Linked DNA regions of Homo sapiens. The protein of the gene in region 3 interacts with the protein of the main gene of each other region in a biochemical or structural test. Each region holds a gene or a part of one and is shown on either strand. Other genes may lie near its edges.

Region 1 (3,500 bases), on a different chromosome or scaffold from region 3:
GTTCCTTTTCATATTTAAGACAAGCACTCTTGCATACAAATTACATAGCTGTGGGCTGAATGAAGATGCTACCATTGCTGTACTTCTACACAGGTTCTTTTCATGTAATGAAATCAGAAGGGATGGCTTTTCCATTTCAAGCTTCTGTTAATAAGTAGTCTTAGAATTGCCTTTGTGTACTGTAGCCAACACCCCAACTCATATATTTTTATAATCTTTGTGATGCAGAATAAATTCTGAAACTTTCCACCTCCTAATTAAATATAGAAATACTGAAAACAATAAAGCACCATGTATTCACTATGGACATATGTCACATTTTGTCACTTTCTTGCACTCTTGTAATCCCTCTCTAAAGCTCATGTTAAACTCATGTTCTTTATTTTCTTCTCAGATGATTCCTTTGGCACTGCATGTAACAGTACAGGAATTTCTTCCTTTCGTACTTCCAACAAATACTTTTTTGTCTCTTAACAGATGTGAACCATAATGCTGTTCTTTAGAAAGCAAAGGATGAAGTGCACAGCAGTGTTTTCTATATAAAGCTAATGGGTCATAAGGGGAAATATGGGTTATTTCCAGCTTGTTAATTGTCTTAATACATTTTTCCTAAGAATTCTATTGTGCCTCTGTGGTTATATGCACCAATATTGATAATCTTACAGCGTGCCATAAATAAGGATTTTTATATTATCTTTGCTAAATATTTTAAGTTTTTGTTTTGGGAATTGAAAAAATCTTTTGTGCATCTATGGTATGTGATACGTATACTAATGGATAAATCCTGTTTCACACAAAGATTAATTGGGTAACATTTTTCTTTCCTAGTTTTCTGAAGTCAGTGGTCATGTTGTGTGTTGGTGATTGAAAATATGCTGTTTAGGCTGGGCGCCTTGGCTCACTCCTGTAATCCCAGCACTTTGGGAGGCCGAGGCACACGGATCACCTGAGGTCAGGAGTTCGAGACCAGCCTGGCCAACATGGTGAAACCCTGTCTCTACTAAAAATACAAAAATTAGCTAGGCGTGGTGGCACACGTCTGTAATCCCAGTTACTTGGGAGGCTGAGGCACGAGAATCGCTTGAACCTGGGAGGCAGAGGTTGCAGTGAGCTGAGATCACACCATTGCACTCCAGCCTGGGCAAGCAAGATTTCATCTCAAAAAAGAAAAGAAAAGAAAAGAAAATATGCTGTTTAAGATCATTCAAATTCAGTTTCTAAGAAGTGTAAAGTTTTCCTAATTACTTAAGCTGCTTCATTCTCATTCCCTTTTGTAACACATTTTGCCATCTCTGTAACATGTTGAACATGTTTAAAGAACAGAGTGGGAGAATAGGAAGTTACGTGGATAAAGTTTGGTAATCAAGGTAGGAATACATCCTGCTTCACAGAATGGGAATATTTCTGAAAAGTTGACTGTAGTATTGAAGAACACTTAAGTGTAGTGTATTAGACGAACTGAGCTAATTTTGGTCTTTTATACACATAAATCAAGATTTCTGCATTTCAAATCATGCATATTTCTTTAAATTTATTGCTCAGTGTACTGTATTTCAAATATTGTAAAAATGAAAAGATCTTGTGGTCTTATTTAACTCAGTATGGGATAAGTCCTTCCCACCTTCCCATTCTTATTCCCTCTTTTAGGCTGAATGAAAGGCTGGGGGAGTGAATTTAAAAATAGATGGATCTCAGCTGGAGAATGGGTTGGTCACGTATCTCAACTGATATTAAATAATTTCTTAAATCCTGGATTGAAGATTATAAGAAAACAGTAAATGTTTGCTCTCAGTTCATTTCTTTGTTTTGTTTTTTCATGTACAGTTTTAGGCACTTGTAACTGCTGGATGCATGAACTACTTTCTAGTTCTTTCAGGCCTACTTTTAGATATCTGCTGTGGGGACAGTCCTCAACACTTAAAGTAATTTTAAATAGTGATAGGCAGAACTAGGGGTCAGTTTTACTGCCTATGCCTGTGCTGAATTTGACATGGCATTCCTAGGAGGGGAGGTGGAACGAGGGCGGTGCACACATTGTCCATATTGCTAGTCAGTGCCAGATTTTGAGAAACTGGGGCTAATCTCTCTCTTAAATGGTCAAGATCTAATTCCCCAAAGTGCTGTTTCAGATAACCTAGTATTTGTCCAAAATTGCCCTGCTACAATAGTATTTATCTTATATATATGTATTATATATATAATATATATATAATCTTATATATATGTATTATATATATTATATATATAATCTTATATATGTATTATATATATAATATATATATAATCTTATATATATGTATTATATATATAATATATATATAATCTTATATATATGTATTATATATATAATATATATATAATCTTATATATATGTATTATATATATAATATATATATAATCTTATATATATGTATTATATATATAATATATATATAATCTTATATATATGTATTATATATATATAATACATATAAATATATATATATATATATATATAGGTTTTTTTTTGTTTTTCCTCCTGAGATGTAGTCTCGCCCTGTTGCCCAGGCTGGTGTGCAATGGTGCAGTCTTAGCTCACTGCAGCCTCCGCCTCCTGGGTTCAAGTGATTCTCCTGCCTCAGCCTCCTGAGTAGCAGAGACTACAGGTGTGCACTACCACGCCCGGCTAATTTTTGTATTTTTAGTAGATACAGGGTTTCACCATGTTGGCCATGCTGGTTTCAAACTCCTAACCTCAGGTGATCTGCCTGCCTCAACCTCTGAAAGCACTGGGATTACAGGCATGAGCCACCACACCAATCCTATTACATTCTTAAAAAAATGTTTGTTTGTTTGTTTTTGTAGAGATGAAGTTTCACTATATTACCCAGCCTGGTCTTGACTCCTGGGCTCAAGTGATCCTCCTGCCTTGGCGTCCCAAAGTGCTGGGATTATAGACATGAGCCACTGCGTCCAGCCTGTATCATATTTTTATTCTGATATCTTTTGTAATTTTGTTTTTAGTGAAGTAGGGAGGTTTATATTAGATAATCTTCCAAGGTAATTATCAGCTTGGACATTATATGCTAATATGTCTTTTGTTTGTTTTTAAAATAAGTGTATATGTTTTAATTGTAAAATTTTTAAAACATCCAGAAAATGACATAGCAAGTGCCTATTTATCCACCACCTGGAAATATAAATTATGTCCATTTTTATCCCTTGGGGGAAAGGATGCAGTTATATAATCACTTTTAACAACCCCAACTGTTCAAGTCCTGTTACCCGTCTCTACACAAAGTAACAACTGTCTTGAGATTCTTAAGTAAATTTCACATCCTTGTTTTATACTTTTACTATACATGTGTACATGTATCTGTAAGTGATATGTGGTGTTGGTTTTTGTATTAAATTTTTACAGACATGTATAACGCTGTCTTTCAATAGCTTGATTTTTTTAAACTCAGTATCAAGTTTTTGAGGTGTATATGTTGATGCGTGTACATGTAGTTTATTCAGTT
Region 2 (3,500 bases), on a different chromosome or scaffold from region 3:
ATTGTTCCAGTCTTTTTAAGTATCACCTCCTCACACTTAGGAAAGCATTTAGTGAGGTCTAATGGTACAAGTTAGCTTTCCAGCACAGACCTCACCAAAAAGGCTGCCATCAACCCAAAAGTAACAATAAATCAAACTCTTCTAGCCTAGGGGGATCCCTAGCCCCCCTTTTTCAAAAGTTATGCTACTTTTACTAAATTTAAATAATTAGCTTTTGCATTTAGTAAATGCTTTAGCATTTACTAAAGGAATACAGAGACCTAAAGAATGAAAGAACCATTCCTTAAATCCTGAGCAGTCGGCGAAGGGAATTGCAAAGGCTGGCTGTAAATCTTGAATATACGGCTTTATTGCTGCTGCACTGAAGAAAGCTCTCTGAGCAAACAATGACTGAAACGAGGGTGACAAAGATTCCAAAGGGTTCTTTTGGTTTGTAAAACTGAGTGTTCTCTTCTCTATATAGAAGAAAGGAAAAAATAGTGGGAGCAGAGGTTTTTTTTTTTTTTTTTTTTGAGTTTAGACACGAAAATCAGTGCTGACCCAGGCACAGTGGCTCACGCCTCTAATCCCAGCACTTTGGGAGGTGAGGCCAGCAGATCACCTGAGATCAGGAGTTTGTGACCAGCCTGGGCAATATGGGGAAACTCCGTCTCTACTAAAAATACAAAAATTAGGCCAGGTGCAGTCTAATTACAGGCTCATGCCTGTAATCCCAGCACTTTGGGAGGCTGAGGCTCACGCCTGTAATCCCAGCACTTTGGGAGGCTGAGGCTCACGTCTGTAATCCCAGCACTTTGGGAGGCTGAGGCGGCTGGATCATGAGATCAGGAGTTCCAGACCAGCCTAGTCAACATGGTGAAAACCCGTCTCTACTAAAAACACAAAAATTAGCCAGGCATGCTAACATGCACCTGAAATCTCAGTTACTTGGAGGCTGAGGCAGGAGAATCACTTGAACCCGGGAGGCAGAGGTTGTGGTGAGCCGAGATCGTGCCACTGTACTCCAGCATGGGTGAGAGAGCCAGACTCCATCTCAAACACACACACACACACACACACACACACACACACACACACACACACACACACACACAATTAGTCGGGAGTGGTGGTGGGCTCCTGTAATCCCAGCTACTGGGTGCCTGTAATCCCAGCTACTGGGGAGGCTGAGGCAGAAGAACTGCTTTAACCTGGGAGGCGGAGATTGCAGTGAGCCGAAATTGCACACTGCACTCCAGCCTGGGTGACAAGAGCGAAACTCCGTCAAAAAAATAAATAAATAAAAGAGGCCGGGTGCGGTGGCTCACACCTATGATCCCAGCACTTTGGGAGGCCGAGGCGGATGGATCACCTGAGGTCAGGAGTTCAAGGCCAGCCTGACCAACATGGAGAAACCCCATCTCTACTAAAAATACAAAATTAGCTGGGCATGGGGGCGCATGCCTGTAATCCCAGCTACTCGGGAGGCTGAGGCAGGAGAATCGCTTGAACCCAGGAAGCAAAGGTTGCAGTGAGCCGAGATTGCCCCACTGCACTCCAGCCTGGGCAACAAGAGGGAAACTCCATTTAAAAAAAAAAAAAAGAAAAAGAAAAAGAAAGTCAGTGCTAAGTTAAAAAGTTGAGGAATAAAAATGACACACTTATTTATTCCATTAACAGATGTGATTGCCTACTATGGGCCAGATATTGGGTACTTGGCAATAGAGAAAACTCCTGTTCCATAAAAGTTCATAATTGAGGGTGACAGAATTAGGGACTTAGTATAATAAGTGACACAGTGTGACTACTTCTATTATAGTTGTAGGAGACTACACCTATGAAAACAATTTCTGCTGAAATACCCCTCCAGAGAGCTTTCTAACTGGAGCTTTAAAGTTCACCAGGCGGAGCAAAGTTGAGCAAAGGCAGAAATGGGAAGGTATTGCAAGGAAATGGAAAAAGAGGAAAGGACAGGATAAAACCTGAAGACCTGGCCAGGCAAGGCGACTTATGCCTGTAATCCCAGCACTTTGGGAGGCCGAGGCAGGCGGATCTCCTGAGGTCAGGAGTTCGAGACTTGCCATGGCCAACATGGTGAAACCTTATCTCTACAAAAATACAAAAATTAGCTGGGCATGATGGCAGGTGCCCATAATCCCAGCTATTCAGGAGGCTGAGGTGGGAGAATCACTTGAATCCAGGAGGTGGAGGTTACAGTGAGCTGAGATTGTGCCATTGCACTCCAGCCTGGGCAACAGAACGAGACTCCATCTCAAAAACAAACAAACCTGAAAACCTGTGTAGAGGCATACATGCCATGTGTTCAAAACTCTATGATTCAGAGACAAAAATAAAAATAGATAAACTGGATCACATCAAAATTTAAAACTTCTGTGCATCAAAGCTTGCAATCAACAGAGTGAAAAGACAAGTCACAGAATGGGAATAAACATTTGCAAATCACGTATCTGACATATCCAGAAAATACAAACAACTCAACAAAAAAAACCAAACCTGATTAAAAAAAAGACATGGGGCTGGACACTGTGGCTCATGCCTGCAACCCCAGAACTTTGAGAGGCCGAGACAGAAGGAGTGCTTAAGCCCAGGAGTCTAAGACCAGACTGGAAAACACAGTGAGACCCTGTCCCAACAAAATGAAAAAGAAAAAAAAAATTGGCTGGGTGTCATGGTCTGCACCTATAGTCTCAGCAGGCTGAAGCAGCTGAGGCAGGAGAACTGCTTGAGTCTAGAAGGTTGAGACTGTAGTGAGACAGGATTGTACCACTGTACTTCAGACTGGGTAACAGAGAGACCCTGTCTCTTAAAAAAAAAAAAAAAGACATTTCTCCAAAGAAAATATATAAATGGGCAAGAAGCACATGAAAAGATGCTCAACGTCACTAGTAATCAGGGAAACACAAACCAAAACCATAATAACATACACCTCACACTCATTAGGGGGTCTCTCATTGTCAAAACAAAACAAAAAACAAAATAATAGGTGTTGGTGAGGGTATGGAGATTAGTAAGTGCTGGTGAGGATGTGGAGCGATTAAAACCCTTGTGCATTGTTGGTGGTAATGTAAAATGGTGCAGCCACTACAGTAAACAGTATGGTGGGTTCCTCAGAAACTTGAAAATAGAAATATCATTTGATCCAGCAATTCTACTTCTGGGTGTATATTCGAAAGAACTGAAAGCAGCATCTTGAAGAGATATTTATACATCCATGTTCATAGCAGCATTATTCAGAATAGCCAGAAGGTATAAGCAACCCGTATGTCCATCCACAGATGAATGGATAAACAAAATATAGTATATACATACACTGGACCATTATTCAGCCTTAAAAGAAGAAATCCTAGGCCAGGCGTGGTGACTCATGTCTGCAATCCCAGCACTTCGGGAGGCCGATGCAGGCGGGTCACTTAAGGCCAGGAGTTGGAGACCAGCCTGGCCAACATGGTGAAACCCTGTCTCTACCAAAAAATACCCAAATTAGCCGGGTGTAGTGGCTC
Region 3 (3,270 bases):
AAATGGAAAAGAGGGATGAGGAAGGGGCCTTACTGGCCCAACTAGAAACAGAAACTAAGAACCCATGACTGTATTCTCTCCCTTGGACACCCCTGTGTTTATTGCAACAGATAGGGGGGAAAGAGACCCAGAAGGTGAGTTGCTGAAGTATTTGTTAAAGATTTGAAGAACTAGCTGGGCACAGTGGGTCACGCCTGTAATCCCAGCACTTTGGGAGGCTGAGGCAGGCGGATCACGAGGTCAGGAGTTTGAGACAAGCCTGGCCAACATGGTGAAACCCTGTCTCTACTAAAAATAGAAAAACTAGCCAGGCGCAGTGGCGGGCGCTTGTAATCCCAGGTACTCCGGAGACTGAGGCAGGAGAATTGCTTGAACCTGGCAGGCGGAGGTTACAGTGAGCTGAGATCGCACCACTGCACTCCAGCCTGGGTAACAGGGCAAGACTCCCTAAGATTTGAAGAACTTGCAAGGGTAATTTTCAGTATGTCATGTTTTGTTCTAGTTGTAGCCATTAGAACCCCACCTCAAAATAGGATTGATTTATTTTTATTTATATTTCTTTTGAGATAGTCTTGCTCTGGTTGAGGCTGGAGTGCAGTGGCGCCATCTTGGCTCACTGCAGCTTCCCTAGCTCAAGCCATCCTCCCACCTCAGCCTCCTGAGTAGCTGGGGAATACAGGTGCATTCCACTGTGACTGCTGATTTTTCTTTAACTTTTTTGTAGAGGTGGGGTCTCGCTATGTTGCTTAGGTTTGTCTTGGACTCATGGGCTCAAGTGATCCTCCCACCTCAGCCTCCCAGAGTGCTGGGATTACAGGTGTGAGTCACTGGGCCCAGCCGAGAAATAAATTTGAACAGAGCATTCTGTAAATGGAACTTATTTGTGGCACCCTTGTTCTGTGGTATGCTAGTTTGAAAAATTCTAGCCTACAACAGTTGATATGCAGGCCCTGCTGCTCTCTGCCCGTTTTTTGAGACGGAGTCTCACTCTCACCCAGGTTGGAGTGCAGTGGCACGATCTTGGCTACTGCAACCTCTGTCTCCCAGGTTCAAGCGATTCTCCTGCCTCAGCCTCCCTAGTAGCTGAGATTACAGGTGAGTGCCACCATGCCCGGCTAATTTTTGTATCTTTGGTAAAGACGGGGTTTCGCCATGTTGGCCAGGCTGGTCTGGGACTCCTGACCTCAGGTGATCCACCGCGCCTGGCCTGTTCTGTGACTTTCGACAAAGCAAACAATTTTTGGTTTCTTGGAATTTCATTTCTCCCCATTTAAAAGAGAACGTCCCCCTCCATCGCTTTCATGCAAGACATGGACCTACCCTTAGCGTGGAAATTGAGCTTGGAAGTAAGGTAGTGTGTAAAGACTAGATTGATTAAAATTCTGGCCTTGATCACATCCTCTTACGATTCTTCTGGGTTGGGGGAGGGTATGCTGTTTTAATTCTACCAGAATGAGAAGAATTTTTGCTGCTGGAATCAACATAAAACTTGGATGCAGCGTGCGGCAGACTTTGGAAAGATCTTTCACTATAGCTTGCTTGGATAAAACTGGTTTTCCCATATTCCTATCCCTGCATTTCTTTCATCTGCCGTGAGATTGTCCTTGTTAGTCAAGTCACAGCATAGCTGATGGGGTAATAGTAGGAGAACTTAAGCAGGCTTCCTGGCGTAGAGCAGTTGGGCCTTTCTGACAAGCCCATTTTCAGTTTCTGTGGGTCAATCTCTGCTTTTGGAAGTGTTTTTCAAGTGTGCCTGTGATTTTAGAGCAGATTTTGTGAGCAGAGGGTCTTCAGTTAGTGGACATCAGTTAGTGGACTTTCTTCAGTAGTGTTTTAGGGCTGGCATGTAGTTGAGTGATGGCAGCCCTTGGCGAGCTTTTACTTGGGAGGATCATTGTTGCCATGTCCCAGTAGCCACGAGATGAGATAATTGCAGGCCCTTTGCTCTTTCTGCCTTCCATCATTCTGTCAGATTTGTTTGGAAAAATTTGTCTGGGGCTGTAGGACATTGTTTCTTGGAAATATGTAACGGTACTTCATTGGTGGGAGCAGCGTTCTTAGTTCAGTGCCTGGACAGCGTGTTCCTTAGATATTCTAATAATTTGTAGAGCTTCAGGATTTGAGACCCTATGATTTTATTTCAGCCTTATTATGTAAGAAAGGGTTGGCTGTAGTCTCTCTTGTCGAGACTTGATCTCTAGGCTATGTAAAATCTGATCATCCTGGACAGCTCTCCAGCCAACAGGGAGCACGCCAGTGGCCTGACACTGCCATGTATTGCCTTGTTCCATCTCTTTGCATGCCTTTGCTTTTTCTCCTAGGCAGGCGTAGTCTTACTTAGGTGTATTTTTTGAAAAGTATGTCAAGCATTGTGCACAGAATAAGTACCCATCTGAATGCTGGGTTGGTTGGTTTGGAGGACTGTTTATTTATGAATGTCATCTTGTGTTACTCAGTTTTTCTGTTATTGGTAAAGTGAAGAATGTTTTTGTTGTTGTTGTTATTTTATAGTGTGGGGTGATCAGCCCCAGATTTGACGTGCAACTCAAAGACCTGGAAAAATGGCAGAATAATCTGCTTCCATCCCGCCAGTTTGGGTAAGTTGGCCTTTCCTTAATTAAAAGAAGTTAATGCTAAGAATTTCTGTGGTGCAGTTTGACTTAAGGGTTTTTTTCTTTTTTTCTGTTTAAAACAAAGCAGTGGTAATTTGTCTACTCTTAACCATTTTGACCTAATAGCTCAAGTGTTATCCATATTTCTTTTCTCTCTCTTTAAAAAGAGACAGGGTTGGCCAGGCACAGTGGCTCACGCCTGTGATCCTAGCATTTTGGGAGGCTGAGGCAGGCGGATCACCTGAGGTTGGGAGTTCGAGACCACCCTGACCAACATGGAGAACCCCGTGTCTACCTAAAATACAAAATTAGCCAGGCCTGGTGGCACACACCTGTGATCCCAGCTACTTGAGAGGCTGAGGCAGGAAAATAGCTTGAACCCGGGAGAGAGGTTGCGGTGAGCTGAGATTGTGCCATTGCACTCCAGCCTGGGCAACGAGTGAAACTCTGTCTCGAGAAAAAAGAGAGAGAGACAGGGTTTCACTTTGTTGCCCAGGCTGGAGTGCAGTGGCTGTTCACAGGTGCGGTCATAACACGCTACAGCCTTGGCTTCTTGGCCTCGAGCAGTCCTCCCCGCTCAGCCTCTTGTGGATTTGGGAATACAGGCGCCTGCCACCGTGCCTGGCTATTTGCCACATTTCATGTGTTGAGCTTCAGG

Evidence for each region. Proteins that work in one complex are often made in the same cells at the same time.
Region 1: the proteins of RPS15A (region 3) and UBE3A form a complex in vitro, tested with the Homo sapiens proteins (one large-scale study listed by BioGRID).
Region 2: the proteins of RPS15A (region 3) and RIOK1 are reported together in a solved structure, tested with the Homo sapiens proteins (one study listed by BioGRID).

The regions. Positions count from the first base shown.
Region 1 is NC_000015.10:25,429,025-25,432,524, reverse strand, and holds part of UBE3A (ubiquitin-protein ligase E3A), read left to right. Parts: intron 1-3,500. UniProt on the Homo sapiens protein: E3 ubiquitin-protein ligase which accepts ubiquitin from an E2 ubiquitin-conjugating enzyme in the form of a thioester and transfers it to its substrates.
Region 2 is NC_000006.12:7,406,808-7,410,307, reverse strand, and holds part of RIOK1 (serine/threonine-protein kinase RIO1), read right to left. Parts: intron 1-3,500. UniProt on the Homo sapiens protein: Involved in the final steps of cytoplasmic maturation of the 40S ribosomal subunit. Involved in processing of 18S-E pre-rRNA to the mature 18S rRNA. Required for the recycling of NOB1 and PNO1 from the late 40S precursor.
Region 3 is NC_000016.10:18,784,065-18,787,334, reverse strand, and holds part of RPS15A (small ribosomal subunit protein uS8), read left to right. Parts: intron 1-2,511; coding exon 2,512-2,597; intron 2,598-3,270.